Linked DNA regions of Homo sapiens: region 1 is linked to region 2. The links come from fine-mapping of genetic effects on gene expression. A gene starts in region 2. The other region holds a variant in brackets. All regions are shown on one strand. Distances are from middle to middle. Region 1 has its middle 32 kb from the start of ACP3. Region 2 holds the start of CPNE4 (copine 4).

Region 1 (5,378 bases), 250 kb after region 2:
TATGCTCTGATTAGCTACAGTTACAAGTAGGTTTCTAAAGAAAAAGAAGAAGCAGTTCCTAAGTTGCTTACCAAGTATTTTATATTAAAATCACATAAGCTACTGATAGGCTATACATTGTTCTTCATATCAAAAATTCCAGGAACATGAAAGTAATGGGTGAGGCAGGTAGTCAGGAACAAAATGCCTTCCTTTTTTTTTTTTTTCCCCCACTTTTTAAAAGGCAAGGTCTTGCTATATTGCCCAGGCTGGTCTCCAACTCCTGGGCTCAAGTGATCCTCTTCTGCCTCAGTCTCCAGAGTAGCTGAGACTATAGGCATACACCACCATGCTTGGCTAATTTAAAAAAAAAAAAATTTAGGAACAGGGTCTTGCTATGTTGCCCAGGCTGGCCTCCAAATCTTGGGCTCAATCAATCCTCCTGGCTTGACCTACCAAAGCGCCAGTATTATGGGCATGAGCTGATGTGCCCACCTCTGTACTCTTTATTTATCATCATACAAAATTAATACTTGAATACACACACAACTTCAAATCTCCTCCATCCCCCTCCCAGTTTTCAGCTCCCTTTCTTAGCTAATTTTTCCCAAAGAGTTCTTGGTGGTTACTACTTTTACATCTTCAGCTCCCACTCCTTTTTCAATCAGTTGTGATTGTACTTCCATCTCCACCACTCCACAGGCACTGTTCCCATCAGACTCAACACGACCTCATCTTGCCAAATCCAGTGGTCACTTCTCTGTCTCTGTCTTTCTTCAGCAAACACTCAGGGCTTTCAAAAAAGCTGACCACTTCCTCATTGAAATACTCTCTCCACCAAGCTTCTGCAACACTACACTCTCCTGTTTCCCTTCTAAGTTCTGCCTTCATGTTTTCAGGCCCCTCCTCCTCTGTTTCAGCTCTAAATACCAGAGGACCAGAGAGCTGTGTTCCTGTTCCTTTTCTTTGTAATTTTTAAGTCATGTTACCAAACCAAACCAGGGTCTGCTCACTCAGTGCAGTAAAGCCAAACATCTACACCAAGGTTTTGCAGCAGGGGGGAAAAGAAGGCATTTATCTGCAGGGCACCAAGCAAGGAGAATCAGGCAGCTCACACTGTAAGAGCCAACCTTCGCAATAGCTTACAAGCAAGAGTTTTTAAAAGCAGGGATAAATTTCAGGGAAGTAGAAGTTACAGGCAGAATTTTAAGGCATATGTGGAGGTTATATATTGATTTGGCCTAAAAAGACAGTATATATTGAAGCAGGAACTTACAGGTCATTGGTGGATTCGAGGATTTTCTGATTCGCAATTGGTTAAGGAAGGGAAACTTTGTCTAAAAACTTGGGATCAGCAGAAAGGAATGTTAGGTCTGGCCCATGGGTATGACGTCCTTTAGGCTCCTAAGGAAGAAGTTTAGAAAAAAGAACGGCAGTCAGAGTTCAGTTCTCAATCGCCCCTTATCTGAGGTCTACATGCCAGTGGATCCATTTGGCTGGGGTCTGTGTTTCTGAAAAGTAGCTCAGGGACATATGTTGAGATGTTGTCTTTAGTTTCTATAGGGAACCAAACATCTCAGGACTCTAACTACCTTGGCTATTGTTTTCAGCTACTATTATCTTCTTGCTTATCAAGTTGCTTATTTACTTCTCAGGGCTAGTGAGGCGGCTAGTTCACTGCCTAGAATTTCCCCGGAAGGAACTCAATATTTTCCTCTATTTCCATGCTTGGCAAGGGGGGGAGGGGGGCCCTAAGAGGGATCCCTGCTCCGTTTCTGTCATGTGACCTTAGACGAGCAACTTAATCTTTCTGAGCCTTAATTTCCTCAACTATAAAATGAGAGTTAATAATAGTACCTTTCTCATATAATTATATCAAAGTCAAAATAAACATGTAGAGATGAATCCATAAATTTAATATTTTATTTGGGAAGAAAGAATTGCAATTTGGGCCATACATACAGACCTGGTGGTCTTCGGGTATGTCCGAATAGCAAAGAACGGCTTAGCAGTTTTGAAACGAGAAAAGTTCCCTTATTCCCCTCGCAGGGCGTGTGACGGGGGTGTGGCGCGCTTCTTCAGTGCCCCGCTGCTCACACCTCTAGGGGGAGCATACAGACAGACGGTCGGGTTGTGAGGCTCCGACCCCATAGCAGTGTCTAGGGGTTAATGTTTACAGCTGAAGCCCCAGTGGGCCTGTGTTACAGGGTGCTCTTTCAGTTTAGCCGTCCGTAGGCGGCTTGTGCTAGTCAGCTCAATCAGACACCCTGCCTTATCGCAGGGACAGAGGGCTTTCTGTATCATGGGGTTTCTTGCCCTGGTGTACCAGAAGAATCAGATCACACGTAGGCTTGGAGAATGAGTGCAAGGTTTATTGAGTGGAAGTAGCTCTCAGTAGATGGGGGAGCCAGAAGGGAGATGGAATGGAAGGTTGCTTTCCCCTGGAGCCAGGCCGCCCAGCAGCGGGGCTTACCTTATACCGCCCTGGCCAAAGTCCGTGTCCTTCCGCGGGTTGATGGCCTGCCGCCCTGCTGGCCTACCGGCGTCTGTCAGTATGTTCTTAGGCCAGTGCGTTCCTCTCAACGGCTAGGTGCTTGTGTCTTTTTCCACTGCTGTGATCCTCTCAATGTCCAGCCGCTGGTGTGTCTGCCC[A/G]CTAGGGTCTCAGGGTTTTTATAGGCACAGGATGGGGGGATGGGGGCATGGTGGGCCAGGGTGGTCTTGGGAAATGTAACATTTGGACCTGAAAACAAATGCCTGTCCTCACCTAGGTCCGTGGGCACAGGCCTGGGGGTGGAGCCCTCGCCAGGGACCCGCCCTTCTCCGCCCAGCACTTCCCTGCCCTATTCCGATATCAGTTTTATAAAAAAGGAGAAATGTTATGTATTCTTCTTTGAGAAAGTTCATTGGCATAAGAAAGAATTTAGGGAGTCAGAAAGCTTCAACTGGTGAATGGTGGCTGTGGGCACAATTAGTGCTAGCCTTTGCAGCACGTTATCTCAGAAGATGAGATAAAACTGGTTTCAGGTTACAACAAGCAGTTTGGGCTTGCAGAGAATTACATTCTTTCAGCAATGTTGTACCCTGCGTGCTTGTTCCCCCTGGCTTCTCAACTCTGTTTTAGTTGTGAGTGACAAGAATGACCCAATTCTTATGATCAACTTTCATGATTGTTATGAGAATTAAACGAATTAACACCTGTAAAGCATTTGAAACAGAACCAGCCAGGTAATGAGTCAGTGCTTCTCAAATTTTAAGGCATATTAGAATCACTTGTGGCTTTTAAAAATCTTGATATCCAGCCCATATACCATAGCAATTAAATTAAAATCTCCAAAAAATTCTCTAATAACTAATTAGGCACAGGGTTTTATTGTTGTTATTTTGTTTTGAGACAGGCTCTTGCCCTATCAGCCAGGCTGGAGTGCAGTGGCATTGTCAGAGGCCTTTGAACCAGAGCAACTCCATCTTGAAAAGGGGCTGGGTAAAATAAGGCTGAGACCTACTGGGCTGCGTTCCCAGGAGATTAGGCATTCTAAGTCACAGGATCAGATAAAAGGTTGGCACAAAGTACAGGTCACAAAGACATGTACATTAATTATATGCACTAACTATAATGCATTATCATGCTAAAAGATATGCCCAGCAGTGCCATGACAGTCTATAAATGCCATGGCAATTTCAAGAAGTTACCCTATATGGTCTAAAAAGGGGAGGAATTGTCAGTTCTAGGAATTGCCCACCCCTTTTCTGGAAAACTCATGAATAATTCGCCCCTCGTTTAGCATATAATCAATAAACATAAAAATCGGCAACCAGCAGCCCTTGGGGCTGCTGTGCCTATGGAGTAGCCATTCTTTTGCTTCTTTACTTTCTCAATAAACTTGTTTTCACTTTATGGATATGCCTCAAATTCTTGCGTGAGATCCAAGAACAGCACAATCATGGCTCACTGCAGCCATCTTGGGTTCAAGCCATCCTCCCACCTCAGCCTCCTGAGTAGCTGGGACTATAGATAGGGGAAAGTCACCACACCCAGCTACCTTTGTTTATTTTTTGTAGAGATGGGGCTTCCACCATGTTGCCCAGGCTGATCTTGAACTTCTGGGCTGAAGCTATCCTCACACCTCAGCCTTCCTAAGTGCTAACATTACAGGCATGAGCTACTGCACGCAGCCTATTTTTTTAATTCTAAGGTAACTTCAGTGTGAGGCTAAGGTTGAGAACCAGGATAGTAAGAGATATAAAAGTATGTCTTAAATGAATAAGATAAACCTGTGTCTCTCTGAAGCTTCATCATCTGTGTCTGACACTTTTGTTGCCATTCACCCAATTTCTGAAGCCCAATGCCTAGGAGTGCCCCTTGATTCTCCCGTTAGCCTTAAATAATGAGGACCAGAAAAATTAAGTATAGAGTTTATAGGAGTCCAAAGCTTGAGGATGGCCACATGGGGGCATAGATTCAAGTTGCCATAAATATACACCCTGATTAGTAGCAGTTACTAGTTGAAGTTTTAAGGAGTAAAAGAAGAGGCAGTTCCTAAGTTGTTTACCAAGAATTTACATTAAAATAACATAAGCTAATGATTGGCTATATATTGTTCTTTGTATCACAAAAACAGGAAGAAAATGGATGTAGCAGCTAGTCAAGAACAAAATACCTTTAAACAATTGTCCCAGACATAGCGGAGAAGGTGACTGAAGTCCCATACTCATGTTTCTCTGAGCCTGATAAATTCTGCATATCTCACATAGCTCAGACTGCTCTGAGCTATTTTCCTTTTTTCCTTTTCTCACCCTTCTCCCTCACATCTCATATCCAATACTAGTATGTATTTTTCTCGTCCATTCACTTCTTTTGACTTCCCCAAATCCACCCTGATCCAAGCTACAATCATCTGTTTCCTGGGCCACTACAGTAGCCTCCTGGCTGTTCTCATTCCCTTTTTTGCTTCTCCATAATTCATTCTTCACAAGCAGCCACAGAATTTTTAATGCATATCACTCCCCTGATTAGAACTCCCCATTTGGCTTCCCATTGCATTTTGAATAAATCCAAACTCCTCACCATGGCCTCAACAAGATCCTGGGTGATTCAACACCTTCCTACCTCTCTGACCTTGTCTGCTCCTGCCCTTTCCCATTTTTACAATTCTTCAGTCACTCTGGCCTTTTTTCTTTCCTCTGAGACCACAATCTCACTCCCTGCCTCAGGGTTTTTACACTTCCTGGGATGCTCTGATGGCTCTCCCCTTTCCTGCATTCAAGTCTCACCTCAAATGTCACCTCATAGAAACCCTCTCTGACCACTCATCTAAAGTATCCCCCACCTCAAGTCACTCACAGTCATGTCACCTTATTTTATTGTCTTCACTGTAGTTCTCACTGTTACAGGACCAATG
Region 2 (5,378 bases):
GGAAGTCACTGTACCGCATCTGTGCCTTCTCCCAGTCAAATATGCTGGGCCTGTGTCTGGGAGAATAAAAATAAGGTTGACCACTCACAGGAAAGGCATAAGTTTGATGGCCATGGGAGTTTTTACTTGTTAACACATAAGTAGAGGTTTGGTTCAATTATAGGCAATCTCTTCTCACACAATCATACAAAACTGCCCAGGATTAAACATCTACTATTGCTATAGACCAATATATCCTTTTATGTAATGTTAATGGAAAAGTCACCTCATTCTGATGTGTTTTGAGTTTGATCCTCTAAAACCATAAGAATCTTCCCATGAGAGATAGTTGAGAAAATGTTGGCCTTTATTAGTATGCACTATTAACACAGGTGTTCTGACTGCATTTTCCAACCCTCCCTCTATTTTATGCACCTCTCTACATGTGAGAACTTTTGACTAACTCTGAGTCCTGACCTGCCAGAGTGACTTTGTCAGTCTCTCTTTAAAAATGGGCAGGTGAATGAGTTCAGCCTAGAAGCAGCAGCTCGGTAAGGGAAATGAAAATATCAGAAGTTATCTAATCACAGCCATAGCCATGCTGAGCTTCATCTTATCTTTTGGTTAATAAAAAGAAATGGGACCTTCCGAAACTTGAAGGGCATCAAATTAAGTTTTTGCTTGCCTCTGGCTTTTTGGGGGATATGCTATGTGGTTTAACCAGCATATACTAACTACAAAAATTGACATGGATTCAAAACACCTGTGTCATAGGACGGTGGGTGTTTGTTTTTTTGTTTTGTTATAAAGCAGAAAATAAAACACAAAGGCCTTTGAGAACAGGGATTGTTAAGGGAATAGAAGAGTATGGAGAAAAGAACACTTTATTTGAAGTTAAGGTAATTGTGTACGCCTGTGTATGTGTGCGCGCGGGGGCGCGCGAATGAGCAGGATTTAGTTTCATTTAAAGATAACATATTAAAGTATCTTGGACAGCTCAAAAGTGCTGTTCAGGAAACAAAACCAAGTGAGCCAAGAAAAACCAGAACAGTGCTTTTAAAATCCCTGGCAAAGCAGCAAGAGGATGAAGAGTTGGTTTTGCATAGTTTTGAACACAGGGTGTAAAGGTGCTGAGGCATCTTTTCCCACAAGTCACTGAAATCCTGTGAGAGTGTGTGAGTGTGTGTGTGTGTCTGTGTGTGTGTGTGTGTGTGTGTAGAGGGAGAGGTTCTCAGATGTCTCTCTTGCAAAGCTTCCCAGAGCACTCTCGCTTCCCTAGCCCCCTCCCGCCTCACTCTGCTCACCTTTCCCCCCTCCACTTCCCAACCACCCACATCAAGCCCTTCATAGATTTGCGCCCCTTGGATCATCTCTGCCGCCTGTGACTTTCCCTGGAGCCTAGCAGGTTCTGGGGCTGAAAGGCAATCCGCCAAGGCGCCCTGGGGCGCCGTCAGATTTGGAACATAGAATGGGAAATAGGGCCTTAAAGCCCACCTACTCCAAGATGAAGGAGGAGCATTTTTCATCAGGGTTTAGCCTGCTCCTCACCGGATGGTAATCAGCACTCGCTTGACTTGGCGTGGACCACCTCCTAATTATCTCCATTGGATTCAGCCCTAACAGTTCTCGTGTGTCTGTGATACCACGCGGGGTCGTGATCTCCTTACTCAGCTGTGGCTTGGTTTCAGTGGTCCCTCCAGTCCCGTCCCCTGTCCCCGTCCCCCTTTCCTTCTGGCTACTTTATTCCATAGAGGAAGAAGCGCTGAAGGACTACGTTGAATCAAAGCACTTGCAAGCCTATTCATTAGTTTTTAACACTGAGAAGAGGCAACTAAAATATTATTAGAACCTCATTGTAAGAAGTGTGGGGGAGGAGGTTGAGAGGCTGAATCCAACCGCAGCCAGGTCAAGCCATTGGAAGGGACTACAATGTCCCACAGCTTTCTCACTGTCAGAGAGGAAGCTGCAACTTCAGCCAGAACTCCCTTCCCCTCCCCTTCCCCGATTTTGAAAACCGTACCCCTTCTTCCGCCTTCGGGACTTCCCTGACCTATCCCTCACCCGTGCCATGCTGTCCCCTCCCCTCCGCGGTCTTTCTCCCCAACTCCATTCGCCCCACCCCACCTGGGCGAGTTGGGTGGATGTCAGAAGGCGAGAGGTAGGGGATGGAAGTCCCTTCAGATTAAAGACGTTGCTTGCTGCTGCTTTTTAAAACAACAACAGCAATGACAAACGTGCAAAGGTGAGCGAGAACCAGTGCATCTCAAAAGTTGGTCTTGCTACGCAGCAGCTCCAACAGACTTTGCAATCACAGCGCCCCAGGAACACAGGAATGAAGAGTTGGCATTTACTTACCTGGGTGTGCCAATCTCGAAGAGTGGAGAGAGAATTCAGCCCGGGACGAGGTCTGTCCCGCCCCCAGGATGCAAAATCCGGCTTTGAAGTGGAGGTGGTTGGTGTGGTAGTTTTGTACTGATGTAAGGGGCGTCGCACCTCCTTCCCCTCTCGTCCTCCGAGGTCAGTTTAGCAACAGCGGCTGGGAAAGGTGCTGAGAGCAGAGTTCGGTCTCTCCGGAAACCCTGACTCCATTCTCGGTGATGGGGGTGGGGGAAGAGGGTGAAAATGTTGGAGATGTCAGGTCGGCTCTCAGTTAACTCGGAGAGTAAAGAGGAGGGTACTGAGAAAAGAGGGAGGGAGTGGAGTGGAGCGAGGGAGGAAGGAAAGGAGGGTGGCAGAAAGAGAAGGGGACGAGCGGGTGGCGGGGAGATGGCAGCTTCTCACAGAGAGATTTCCACCTTCTGACGAATCCCATGCACCCAGCAACCCGGCAAGAGACTGGTTCCGAAACCTCCGCGCGAGCGCCCCCTGGGGGTTGCTGACGGAGACGAGCATTGCCCCGGGAACCCGAGCTCAGGCCCCGCCCAGGCCTTGGCGGCGGCGCTCTCCGTGGTCCTGCCGCGCCCGCAGTCTGGGCTTTCTGCTCAGCTTTGTCGCTCAACTGAGCTCCTGGGGACACTTGATTTAGATCTCCAAGTGCTTGGTCTCCATCTCCACTCTAGGGTGGAGCGGTCGTATCGCGGCGCGGGTGTGGGGGGAATGGGAGTTACACTTTTTGGCACTCACCAAAGAAAACTTCTTAGATGGGTGCTTAACTGTCACCAAAAATGGTAAAGGTGTTGCTAATCTCTGGATCCTTCGTGTCTACAAAACTGTCTGGCGTATGGCAGGAGCCTGGAAATTATTTTTAGTAAGTAATGCATGAGTAAATTAATGGACAAAGAGTATTTTCTTCATCTCATGATGAGTTTCTGAATACATCTACCTCACAAATAAGATAAAGAAATACTTAGGGAGTACTTATGCTTAAAGATAGATATAAATATGCTGTCTTATGTAAGGGGTGACCACTTCCACATGTTTTAAAGCACTTTAGAGAGAAAGTATGGCCTTCCTATTTCAAACTTATTCAAATTCAGACAAATGAACTTATTCAAATACAGGGCATTGTTTCTGATTATGTCTGCTACCATAGACAAACTAGACAACTAAATTCTCTCTGCACATTGGTATTGTCAGACTCACAAATTGGACTTTGGAATTAATGAAGTAAAGTGAATGACGGTCTCTTTCTGACATTGGGATGGTATAGAGTGTGTTACATCTAACGTGGAGGGGAGATGGAAGGTCTTCCTTCTCACCCTATTAAGGGGCTATCTAACAAAGCCTCTCCAACCTGAAGGTTGGAGGAGATATTAGCCAAAATCTTTTCACTAACCATGAAGTTCTCAATTTCAAAGTCCAGAAAAGGAGAACCAATAGGGTAAGGAGGAAGACCCCCTCTTAATTGTTCTATAGAAGTAGACAGAAATATCTTTGATAAACAAAGGGACAACCTTCTGACAGAACACAAATAACATTTTTCTTCTTTCAGTCACCTCTAAAGCCTTTCTGAAATAGGATAACACTAAACATGGACCCTGGAAAGGACCTCAGGGAGCTTCTCTGTACACTGAAACTACCACAGAAATCCTTGGATTTGCTTTGATTGCAAAAACTTGGGTCACATGGCTATGCATAAGTCAATCGTTGTGACCTTTGGATATGGAATTACACTAATGGGCCAGGACTTCCACAATGTCTAGGAGCATGTGATGTCTTCTATAGCACTCCTGGAGCCAGGATGGAGCCCCACCTGATCTACACACATTGCGAGTGAGACACAGGGACAATTCTCCAAGGGATATTCAGGGTCCTCCTACCAGGAAAGGGGAGACGGATGCTAAGCAGGCAAAACCAGTGTATGACTACTAAATATGAAAATGTTAAGTCCAAAAACATTACTTCCAGGTTTTGTTAAGAGGTAGCCTCAGAGATAAACTCAAAATTTGAATTGGATTGAACTTGCAAAGATGAAGGAAGAAGAAGGAAAAGTCATTGTGCATTTCCTTGCATGTTAATTGTATCCTCTAAAATTTAATTTCTATGAAGGCAAGGGATATGTCTGTTTTGTCGTCTTGTTCATAATTATAACCCCAATGCCTAGAAAGGTGTCTACCACCTTCTACATTTATAAAATTAAAAATAATATAAATACCTTAGGGACCATTCAACATAAACTTCTTATATTACAGGTGAGAGAAAAGGAATTAAGATGTGCTGAGCATGTACTATTTCCAGGCAATCTGTTAGGCACTCTACTTACCATCCCATTTAATTTTTACAACAACCTGCCCAAGAAAGTTTTACTATATCTACAAAAATAAATCCAGGGTGTGGGCGGTTGAAATGACCAGACCAGGGAACACAACTAGTTAATGGGAGGATAGGGGTTGTTCATTGAAGCAGTCTCTAAAGGGGCAGCTAGAATAAGTGAACACATGGACCATAGAAAAGAAGTTATAGAGTCAATGCTCATAGGGAAAAAGAAAAACAACATAGTTATCTTTGGCCCTACATGTTAAAAGCATAGATACACAAACTAAACACAATGCCACAACTTGTGACAAATATGGTTTCCTTTGCCAGCAGGCTTCAGCTCCGTAATTAGAAACAAACAGTTGCCTGCATGCCAGTGCGCAGAAAACGTGCAGCTTTATGCCAGAAACTTGGAATTTTTTTCTGAAGGCATGACACTGAAGGTAAATTCAAAGAAGCTTTTTACAGGGCACATAAAGCAGAATTTACTTCCACCTCTTATATGAAATCAACAGCTCATCTGTACAAATGAAGATTTGTAACCAGCTAATAATCCATGTTTTCAATCACTGCCCCCACAGCAAGTTGCCCGCCAGCCACAGTCCCCTCAACAATTGTAACATCAAAATCCCCTTGTCTCTATCACTCACCTCCTCCCAGCTCTCCTTTTAATGGATTCTGAGCTGCTGGGTTCTACAGCCATG

What was found. PIP is the estimated chance that this variant, and not a neighbour inherited with it, causes the effect.
Region 1: its variant is fine-mapped to the expression of CPNE4 in lung (TOPMed, PIP 0.91).

What each region holds. Positions count from the first base shown.
Region 1 is chr3:132,282,788-132,288,165 of GRCh38, forward strand. No RefSeq gene overlaps it. Among named protein-coding and RNA genes, the nearest start is that of ACP3, 32 kb to the right of the region's middle. The variant A/G (reference allele first, on the strand shown) is at 2,632.
Region 2 is chr3:132,032,233-132,037,610 of GRCh38, forward strand. CPNE4 (copine 4) reads right to left here and starts at 2,782. Exons shown (of 16, transcript NM_130808.3): 1 at 2,335-2,782. RefSeq lists an enhancer at 2,362-2,531 and a silencer at 2,907-3,006.